Regions from separate parts of the Homo sapiens genome. Here region 2 is linked to region 1. The links come from fine-mapping of genetic effects on gene expression. A gene starts in region 1. The other region holds a variant in brackets. All regions are shown on one strand. Distances are between the middles of the regions. Region 1 holds the start of LINC00239 (long intergenic non-protein coding RNA 239). Region 2 overlaps LINC02320 (long intergenic non-protein coding RNA 2320).

What was found. PIP is the estimated chance that this variant, and not a neighbour inherited with it, causes the effect.
Region 2: its variant is the best candidate, but not a certain one, in a credible set for the expression of LINC00239 in whole blood (INTERVAL, PIP 0.72).

Annotation. Positions count from the first base shown.
Region 1 is chr14:101,727,886-101,733,263 of GRCh38, reverse strand. It overlaps LINC00239 (long intergenic non-protein coding RNA 239), which reads right to left and starts at 2,827. Exons shown (of 4, transcript NR_026774.1): 1 at 2,777-2,827; 2 at 1,796-1,907; 3 at 1,288-1,476; 4 at 739-1,028. It overlaps LINC02320 (long intergenic non-protein coding RNA 2320), which reads left to right and starts at 1,958. Exons shown (of 6, transcript NR_184269.1): 1 at 1,958-2,210. RefSeq lists enhancers at 1,261-1,360, 2,091-2,150, 1,193-2,392.
Region 2 is chr14:101,684,747-101,690,124 of GRCh38, reverse strand. The region is part of intron 1 of LINC02320 (long intergenic non-protein coding RNA 2320); the gene reads left to right. Among named protein-coding and RNA genes, the nearest start is that of LINC00239, 43 kb to the left of the region's middle. RefSeq lists a silencer at 627-790. The variant T/A (reference allele first, on the strand shown) is at 3,288.

The DNA of each region.
Region 1 (5,378 bases):
TTAGTCCCCAGGGCTGGGGGAAATAGTCATCCAATGCTTGTTACAAAACACTCATGGCTGTCTTAAGCCACTTGGTTCTGGGGTGATTTATTAGCCAGCAAGAAGTAACTGGAAGGCCGGGCATGGTGGCTGATGCCTGTAATCCCAGGACTTTGGGAGGCCAAGGTGGGCAGATCACCTGAAGTGAGGAGTTTGAGACCAGCCAACGCATGGTGAAACCCCACCTCTACTAAAAGTACAAAAATTAGCTGGGTGTGGTGGCGCATGCCTGTAATTCCAGCTACTTGGGAGGCTGAGGCATGAGAATTGCTTGAACCTGAGAGGCGGAGGTTGCAGTGAGCCAATATGGCGCTGCTGCACTCCAGCCCGGGCAACACAGTGAGACTCTGTAAAAAAAAAAAAAAAAAAGAAGTAACTGGAATAAAATGAAAATTGTGCTTGTAGGACGTGAGCCAAGCAGATACATGCAGTTGATTTGATACAGTTGTTTACACAATGCACACTTCTACATGCACATGTACCTTGCATATTAGATGCATAATTACATCTGCCCCACTTAATTTTCAGATGCTCTCCGAGATGGGTGGGGGGTGCAATGGCACAGAAATGCATTACGTCGTCAGAGTCAAGGCCCCACTGACAATGCGGGTGCTCATTAGTTAAGCAGATATTATTAGGCATGTTTACCTGAGAGGAGAGGAACATTCTGTGAAATAATAAATCTGCTGGTTTCTATTCTTCTCCCTTTGCAGACTGAGTTTTTATTATTTTGATCCCAGTACCCATTAGAAACACAGTGTCTAAATATTGAAATGCTTTGCTTCAAAAGCTGCTAAGATACAGTGGCAAAGGTAGCCTTGCAATGAGGTTTTATCTCCAGAGTCCCAAGTTTTTGAGACAAATCCAATGACGCAGATCTTGTGGTCAAGGATGATGCAATGGCGCTCCAGGAACAATATCAGGCTCTGTGACTTGGGTGCCTTCTGGGTGTGTGGCGTGGTCTCGGTCTGACAATCTCTAGAACAACCCTACGAGGTGGTAATTATTATTCTCATGCTGCAAGGGATATCTCCCACCTCCTAGGTGGACTCAGGTCTTGTGGGGCTTAATGCTTTTAAATTTGGGCTGCCTTTTGAAGGGAAAAGACTACAAAATTATGAATACAAAATGAGGTTAAGGTCTTGGGAGGGGCCCATGCAAGCTGGGGGCTCTGCAGGTAAGCTTGTTTAGCTTCCCAGCAAATCCACCTCTGAGCTTGCAAATTACAAAGCTGGAATTTGAACTCACATCTGCTGGATGCAAAGTCCGAGGTCTTCCTGTAGCATGACCGTCTTCCTGTGTGATGAGAAACATCAGGCTGCCGAGGCCAAACAGTGGGTGCGTCACTTTCCAATGAGGCAGGTGTGCGGGACAGGAAGTGGGAGGTTCTCCTTGCAGGGGAGCGGCTGCTGCCAACATCCCAGCTGGTACCTGTCCCTGAGAATGGTTTGGCAGGTGGGGGCCACTTGAAGTCTCTGCTCCTACACCCCGTCACCCCTCCCAGGCTGCTTTCAGAGGAGGGCAAAGGGTATTCATTCCAGCCTCCAATTTCTTCCTCCCACTCCTCGAAAGCATTTAAGTGAGGAAGGCAGGGAAAACGTAGATGATTCTGCTATTGACAGGAGGCCTTTTTTTCCTGCTGGAAGTAAAAGGAGACACTCTAGCTGGGCAGCCAGCCCCACCCTCCAGGGCTCCATCTGGCCTGGCTGAGGCTGGCCAGCCCCTGCTGTGCATGGAGGGGTGCTGGGAAGCCTACCTTGCTTCACACTTTCCTCTTCCACACCCGGCCTGTGACTCATGCCTGAAACGCCTCCGTTCAAGCAATTCTTCCTTTTATTGTGAAGCACTGCTCTCTTCCGGCTCCTCCCCTAAGTCACCACGCAGGGGAGATTTAAGGGAGAGGTTATTTCCCCACCGTGTTCAGGGACAACCCTGTGATCATGGTTTTGGTCACATAGCTTCCAAGTGAGTGTTGTGCAAACATTTGCTAGGATCTCTCGGGGAGCCTGTTAGAAAAGAAACTCCTGAGCCTGCTCCAGAGCTTCTGTTCAGCAGGCCTGAGGTGGGACCATACACCTGTCTTTTCAGCAAGCCCCCCCCCACCTCTGAGGATGCACCCCAAAGCTAGAGAATTCCTGCTCTGAGCCATCTCTGAAAGCACCAAGAGCCAGGTTTGGTTTTTTGTTGTTGTTGTTGTTGTTGTTGTTGTTTTGTTTTTTTTTTAATTACACCCAGACCTGGGTACCTGAGCAATCACTGTCTCTGGAATCAGTGCAAAGTTACCGGGAGCTGCAGAGGCCCAGACAGACTGGAAGAGGGGAGAGCTTGGCTCTAACCCATGCAGCCTCCCCATTGCCCAAGTCCACCCCCAGACCACCTCCCTGCATTCAACCACGAGCTTTGTAGAGGGCAGGCATGCCCCAGGGGCTCTCAGCATCACCCCCCTGCCCCTACCTGTGACCAGAGTCTCCCTGGACTCTCAGCTCTGTCTTCCCAACTCGAAGAGCCTGCCAGGCCCCACCTGGGTACCCTTGTCCATACTGTAGCTTGGAAACCCTCTCAAGAAAGGAAGCTGGGTTAATTGCAGGCTCACTTTATTTTCCACATTCTCAGAAATCATTGTGCCTAGTTACCTGATATCCAGTGTATTAGTCTGTCCTCATGCTGCTGATAAAGACATACCCGAGACTGGGTAAATTATAAGGAAAAACAGGTTTAATAGGTTTAATGGACTCACAGTTCCACGGGCCTGGGGAAGCCTTACAATCATGGCAGAAGGTGAAAGGCACATCTTATATGGTGGTGGACAAGAGAGAATGGAACCAAGTGGAGAGGGAAACCCCTTATAAAACCATCAGATCTCGTGAGACTTGTTCACTACCACGAGAACAGTATGGGGGAAACCACCCCCATGATTCAAATATCTCCCACCAGGTCCCTCCCACAACACATGGGAATTATGGGAGCTACAATTCAAGATGAGATTTGGGTGGGGACATAGCAAAACCATATCATCCAGTGTCTTGAGAACTCTTGTTTTATATATTTGGTCCAATTTATTTTGACTTTTTCAGGCAGGAGAGGAAATCCAGTCTCTACATTCCGTCTTGTTTGGGAGTGAAAGTGTTCATTTTCTTTTAAAACAGACAATATCCTTCCAAATCTATAGTTAGTTCACTCATCCATCACTCATCCATAACCACTGTTAATATTTTGGTCTACATTCTAAGATATTTTTTTTCTGTGCATATGCGTGCACGTAGCAGGGTCACAAAATCACTCACAATACATCAGATGTGCAAAGAAAATAGAGTGTCTTCATTTTCCTACTTAATTAATCTGATCTTTCTTGAAAGGTACTCTCTGCTGGGTAATACAATGGGGAGAAACATCCATTCTAGTAACCTTGGTCTAATACAAACATTTAACCAGTTCTTTGAGCAGCTCAGCATTCTGAGGCTGAAGTGTTTGGCCAGTGGGGCTTCTGATGGCTGCCACTGTCTACTCCTCTACTCCAGATTGTGTCTGGGCACACAGCTGGTGGGCTGCAGGATTTGGGGGTTCTTTTGGTAGCCAGGAGGAAGGGGTCCTCTGGTCCACACATGTTCTCCAAGTTTCCCTGAGTTTGGCTGCAGAGCAGTTGGCCTGGGCTACTCCATGGAACGGAGTGGTGGCTGTCGAGGAGCAATGAGTCATGGGAGATCAGGTCACGTAGGGTCTTGTGGGCACTGCGAAGACTCTGGCTTTATTTTTCTTTTTTGAGACAAGGTCTCGCTCTGTCACCCATGCTGGAGTGCAGTGGCATGATCTTGGCTCACTACAGCCTCGACCTCCCAAGTTCACGCAATCCTCCTGCCTCAGCACCTCAAGTAGTTGGGATTACAGCCATGCGCCCCTACACATGGCTAATTTTTGTACTTTTTGTAGAGATGGGGTTTCACCATGTTGCCCAGGCTGGTCTTGAACTCCTGAGCTTAAGTGATCTGCCCACCTTGGCCTCCCAAAGTGTTGGGATTACAGGCATGAGCCACCGCACCTGGCCAAGACTTTGGATTTTATCCCAAATGAAATAGGGAAGCCACTGGAGGGCTTCAATGTGGTGGTAGGAGGCAAATACTGATTGAAAAGGTTCAAGAGAAAATGGGAGGAGAAAAATTGAAGATAATAAGAATAGATACTTCCAGCTGGGTGCAGGGGCTCACACCTATAAGCTCAGCACTTTGGGAAGTTGAGGTAGGGATTGCTTGAGGCCAAGAGTTCCAGAGCAACCTGGGAAACATAGCAAGACTCTGTCTCTACAAATTTTTTTTTTAATTTTTTTTTTTTTTGACAGAGTCTCGCTCTGTAGCCCAGGGTGGAGTGCAGTGGTGCAACCTCAGCTCACTGCAACCTCCACCTCCCAGGTTCAAGCAATTCTCTTCATTCAGCCTCCTGAGTAGCTGGGATTACAGGTGCCCGCCAACACACCTGGCTAATTTTTTGTATTTTACTAGAGACAAGGTTTCACCATGTTGGCCAGGCTGGTCTCCAACTCCTGACCTCAGGTGATCCGCCCACCTCGGCCTCCCAAAGTGCTGCAATTACAGGGATGAGACATTGCGCCCGGCCTACAAAAAATTTTTACAAATTAGCGGGGAGTGGTGGTGCACACCTGTAGTCCCAGCTACTAAGAGGCTGAGGTGCGAGAATTGCTTGGGCTCAGGAGATCGAGGCTGCAGTGAGCTGTGAGTATGCCACTGCACTCTGGCCCAGATGGATACTTCCAAAGAGTCTTGCTATAAAGGAGAGCAGAAAGGGAGAGAGAGATTTTATTAGTCCGTTCTCACGTTGCCAATAAAGACATACCCGAGACTGGGTAATTTACAAAGGAAAGAGGTTTAATTGACTGACAGTTCAGCATGGCTGGGGAGGCCTCAGGAAACTTACAGTCATGGCAGAAGGGGAAGCAAATATGTCCTTCTTCATATCTTCATATGGCAGCAGCAAGGAGAAGTACCGAGCAAAAAGGGGGAAAGCCCCTTATTGAACCATCAGATCTCGTGGGAACTCACTCACTATCATGAGAACAGTAGCATGGGGGTAACCACCCCCATGATTCAATTACCTCCCACCGGGTCCCTCCCATGACAAGTGGGAATTATGGTAACCACAATTCAAGATGAGATGTGGTTGGGGACACAGCCAAACCATATCAGAGATCAAGTTTTAATTTTTTTAATGAATGAATTATTATAATGGGAGATGATGGGTTGGCTCCAATAGGGAGGACAAATCAACAATTGGTGGTGGTGGTGGAGCGCTGCTGAAATGGGGGAAGCCAAAACCTGAGTGGAGGGTCA
Region 2 (5,378 bases), 43 kb after region 1:
ACCCGAAGAACGAGCAGCAAGATGTATTGCAAAGAGTGAAAGAACAAATCCTCCACGCTGTGGAATGGGACCCGAACAGGTTGCGCTGCTGTCTTGGGCAGCCTGCTTTTATTCCCTTATCTGACCCCACCCACATCCTGCTGATTGGTCCATTTTACAGAGAGCTGATTGGTCCGTTTTATAGAGCACTGACTGGTCCTCTTTATAGAGCGCTGATTGGTCCGTTTTGACAGGTTGCTAATCAGTGCATTTACAATCCCTGAGCTAGACAGAGTGCTGATTGGTGTATTTACAATCCTCTAGCTAGACCTAAAAGTTCTCCAAGTCCACACTAGATTAACTAGACACAGAGCACTGATTGGTGTGTTTATAAACCTTGAGCTAGACACAGGGTGCTGATTGGTGCATTTACAATCCTCCAGCTAGACATAAAAGTTCTCCAAGTCCCCACCAGATTAGCTAGATACAGAGTGCTGATTGGCGTATCCACAAACCCTGAGCTAGACACAGAGTGCTGATTGGTGCATTTACAATCCTCCATCCAGACATAAAAGTTCTCCAAGTCCCCACCCCACTCAGGAGCCCAGCTGGCTTCACCTAGTGGATCCTGCGCCAGAGCTGTGGGCGGAGATGCCCGCCAGTCCCGCACTGTGGCCCACACTCCTTATCCCTTGGGCAGTCGATGGGACCAGGCGGGCACCCCGGAGCAGGAGGTGGCACCGTTGAGGTGGCTCGGGCCGCTGGGGAGCCCACAGGGGTGAGGGGTGGGGCTTGGGCATGGCCGGCTGCAGGTCCTGAGCCCTGCCCCGTGGGGAGGCGGCTGAGGCCCGGTGTGAATTGGAGCACAGCATGGGCAGGCTGGCAGTGCTGGGGGACCTGGTGCACCCTCCGCAGCTGCTGGCCCAGGTGCTAAGCCCCTCACTGCCCAGGCAGGTGGTGTGGGCTGGCCACTCCCAGTGCGGGGCCTGCTGAGCCCCGCCCACCTGGAACTCGTGCTGGCCCGCGAGCTCGGCGCGCAGCCCTGGTTCCCGCCTGTGCCTCTCCCTCCACACCTCCTGGCAAGCAGAGGGAGCCGGCTCCGGCCTCGGCCAGCCCAGAGAGGGGCCCCCACAGTGCAGTGGCGGGCTGAAGAGCTCCTGGAGCATGGCCAGAGTGGATGCCGAGGCCCAGGAGGCACCTAGAGCAAGCGACGGCTGCTAGCACGTTGTCACCTCTCAACACCAGCGGCCCTGTGGCTAGTGGTCTCATTCCAGGGTCCCACTAGAGGATCTGCCTCCTACTCCTGGCTGTAAGAATTGAAGAAGAAAGAAACATGAAAAGTGGCTGAGTAGTCAAAGACAGGTTTATTTCAGAGAGTAAACCTGAGAGGGCCTTCTGGCCGAGTTAGGTTGGGAGCAGTCTCTCTTACAGACTAAGAGTATTTAAGGGTTCAGGGTGGGAGAGCTTATCACAGGCTTGAAATGTCCTGTGTCTCTTTGTCTTGCTTATCTGGGAGGGAGAGTTTTGTGTCTGTTCCCATACATCTTCCTGCACCTGCAGGCATACCCCCGAGTTTACTTTTAGCTTCCCTATCTTAGTGCACCTGAAAAGAAAGGAATGTGCTTATTTGGACCCACTGTTTTGCTGGGTCCCATTGTATGGGTGTGAAGCTTGGTGGTTACCCAAGAGACTTTCCCCTCTCTCTCCCTGCCTGAGCTGTCTTATCTGTGTTTTACCGTCTGCTCTTTCTGGCTGCTTGTTGTTAGAAAAGAAGTGATTTCCTTGAAATGCATGAGGTTAGAAAGGGAGCTGGAATTTAAAATGGTGGCGTTTGTCCAAGATGGCAGTGCTTCTGCTCTGTCACTGACACCAAGGTTGTAGATTGCATCCTTCCCAAAGTTGATCCTGAGATGAAAATTTGAGAGCAGGATGTTTATTTGGGTGAAGAAGTGATACCTGGAAGGGGATACAGCCAATCAAAGTTGTGTCATTAAGCCAGCCACCACAGGGAAACCAGAGCTTAACACTGTTGGGAGATGCTGGGAAGTTGTGTAACACACACACCTTAGAGTTATCTCACTTGGAGGAGGGCCAAGGGAGCCGAAATATTTATGCACCAACTTTCATCAGTCATTGGCGCAAGCTGTTTCAGAGGGTTGTTAATAGCCCGGCACTTCCGCTTCCCCTATGTGTGGGCAAAATGCCCTCAGGGTGGAGATGCTGAAATGGCAATGGGAAGTCACCTGGGGCATAGTGAGTGGAGAGTCTGAGGCAAGTAGGTGGGGCAGTGATGATTCTGCTCCATCCAACCATATTTTACCTGGTGCTGTTATTCACTAATGACCTTCACCTGAATCAGTTGTTATACTGGTGGTTGCAAAATTGTGATTTTCTAAATCCGTGACTTCTAGGTGAATTAACTGGCATTCTTTCACAAAAAGCTCCTCACCGTTTTTTTCTTTCTCTTTTTATGAATGCCACTACGGATGAACTTTGCTTTATGCAAATTGTCATCAAATGTGGTGTCAAGCTGGCTTCTGTGTCTTTTTTTTTGAGACAGAGTCTCACTCTTTTAACCAGGCTGGAGTGCAATGGTGCGATCTTGGCTCACTGCAACCTCCACCTCCTGGGTTCCAGCGATTCTCCTGCCTCTTAGCCCCTCTAGTAGCTGGGATTACAGGTGCATGCTACCACACCCGGCTAATTTTTGTATTTTTAGTAGAGATGAGGTTTCACCATGTTGACCAGGCTGGTCTTGAACTCCTGACCTCAGGTGATCCACCCGCCTCGGCCTCCCAAAGTGCTGGGATTACAGGCATGAGCCACCATGCCCGGCCAGCTTCCATGTCTTTTTGGCAAGAACCAGTCTTTGGCTTCTTCCTTGATTTTAGCACAGATGCCCTGACCTATGTTGGGCACCCCCTGTCCTGCACCTCGAATCAGCCACTTCTCTAAAGAGCTACTGGCTGGAAGGATTCGGTCTTTAAGATCAGATGCTTATGGTGCTCACTGGACCTGAGGAATTGTTGCTTGTAGTCTTTTCATGGGTCCTTTTATTGATATTTTCCCAGTGATCTCTGTTAGTTGTAACAGTGGCCTTTATTCCTTTAAACATTTTGCACACATTTTTTTCTTTTGTTTTGAAAATATTATTATTTTGAATAATGTAGCATAAATTAAAACTTTTAGGTTGGATGCGGTGGCTCATGCCTGTAATCCTAGCACTTTGGGAGGCTGAGGCGGGTGGATTGCCTAAGCTCAGGAGTTCGAGACCAGCCTGGGCAACACAGTGAAACGCCGTTTCTACT[T/A]AAAATACAAAAAAATTAGCCGGGTGTGGCGACATGTGCCTGTAGTCCCAGCTACTTGGCAGGCTGAGGCAGGAGAATTGCTTGAACATGGGAAGCAGAGGTTGCAGTGAGCCGAGATTGCGCCACTGCACTCCAGCCTGGGTGACACAGTGAGACTCCATCTCCAAAAAAAGAAAAAAAAAAGACTTTTAAGGAACTTAAGTACATATTTCCTGTGTCAATATATTTTATTTATTTTTTAATTGACAAGTAGAAATTGTATATATTTGTGGTGTACAACCTGATGTTGTGACACACTATGGAATGGCTAAATCAAATTATTGAACATATGCATCATGCCACATACTTATCATTTTTTTTGTGTGTGGTGAGAACACTTAAAATCAACTGTCTTAGGGATTTGCAAGTATATAACACATTGTTATCAACTGTAGTCACCATGATGTACAATAGATCTCTTGAACTTATTCCTCTTATTTCACTGAAATTTTGTGTCCTGCGACCAATATCTTCCCAATCCCCCAACCTCCAGCATCTGGGAACCGCTATTTTACTCTCTGCTTCTATAAGTTTGACTTTTTTACACTCTATATACAAGTGAGATTACGTATTTTTCTTTCTGTGCCTGGCTTATTTTACTTAATGTGATGTCCTCTCAGTTTATCCACATTGTTGCAAATGACAGGATTTTATTCTTTTTAAAGCTGAATAATATTTCATTGTGTACACATACTGTATTTTATTTGTTCATCTATCAATGGACACTTAGGTTGATTCCTAACTTGATTCTTGTAATACTGTAGAACATGGGAGTGCAGATATCTCTTTGACATACTGATTTCATATCCTTTGGATTTATACTCAATGTTGGGATTGCTGGATCATATGGAAATTCTATTTTTAATTTTTTGAGGAACTTCCATGCTGTTTTCCATAATGGTTGTACCAAATGTACATTCTTGTATATTGTACCTTGTACAACAGTGTACAAGATTTCTCTTTTCTCCACATCCTTGCCAACATTTATCTTTTGTATTTTCGATAAGAGCCATTCTAACAGGTGTGAGGGGATATCTCACTGTGGTTTTAATTTGCATTTTCCTGATGTTTAGTGATGTTGAGCATTTTTTCATACACCTGTTGGCCATTTGTATGTCTTCTTTTGTGAAATGTCTATTGAGGCCCTTTGTCCATTTTCATATCAGGTTGTTTTCTTACTATTGAGTTGAGTTTCTTATATATTTTGGATCTTAATCCCTTACCACACGTATGGTTTGCAAATATATTCTCCCATTCTGTAGATTATATCTTCACTCTGTAAAAGGAAAATAAATCTTGGGCCCCCAAATCACTAAGCTAAAGGGAAAAGTCAAGCTGGGAACTGCTTAGGGTAAACCTGCCTCCCATTCTATTCGAAGTCATCCCTCTGCTCACTGAGATAAATGCATATCTGATTGCCTCCTTTGGAGAGGCTCATCAGAAACTCAAAAGAATGCAACCGTCGGCTGGGCGCGGTGGCTCAGGCTTGTAATTCCAGCACTTTGGGAGGCGGAGGCGGGCGGATCACAAGGTCAGGAGATAGAGACCATGGTGAAACCCTGTCTCTACTAAAAATACAAAAAATTAGCCGGGCGTGGTGGCGGGCGCCTGTAGTCCCAGCTACTCGGAGAGGCTGAGGCAGGAGAGTGGCGTGAACCCGGCGGGCGGAGCTTGCAGTGAGCCGCGATTGCGCCACTGCACCCCAGCCTGGGCGACAGAGTGAGACTCTGTCTCAATTAAAAAAAAAAAAAAAAAAAAGAATGCAACTGTTTGTCTCTCATCTAACTGTGACCTGGAAGCCCCCTCCCTGCTTCGAGTTGTCCTGACTTTCTGAATGGAACCAATGTACATCCTACATATATTGATTTATGTCTCATGTCTCCCTAAAATATGTAAAACCAAGCTGTGCCCCGACCACCTTGGGCATATGTCATCAGGACCTCCTGAGGCTGTGTCACAGGCGTGCATCCTCAACCCTGGCAGAGTAAACTTTCTAAATCAACTGAGACCTGTCTCAGATATTCTGGGTTCACATTTTGGTAACCACGAAGG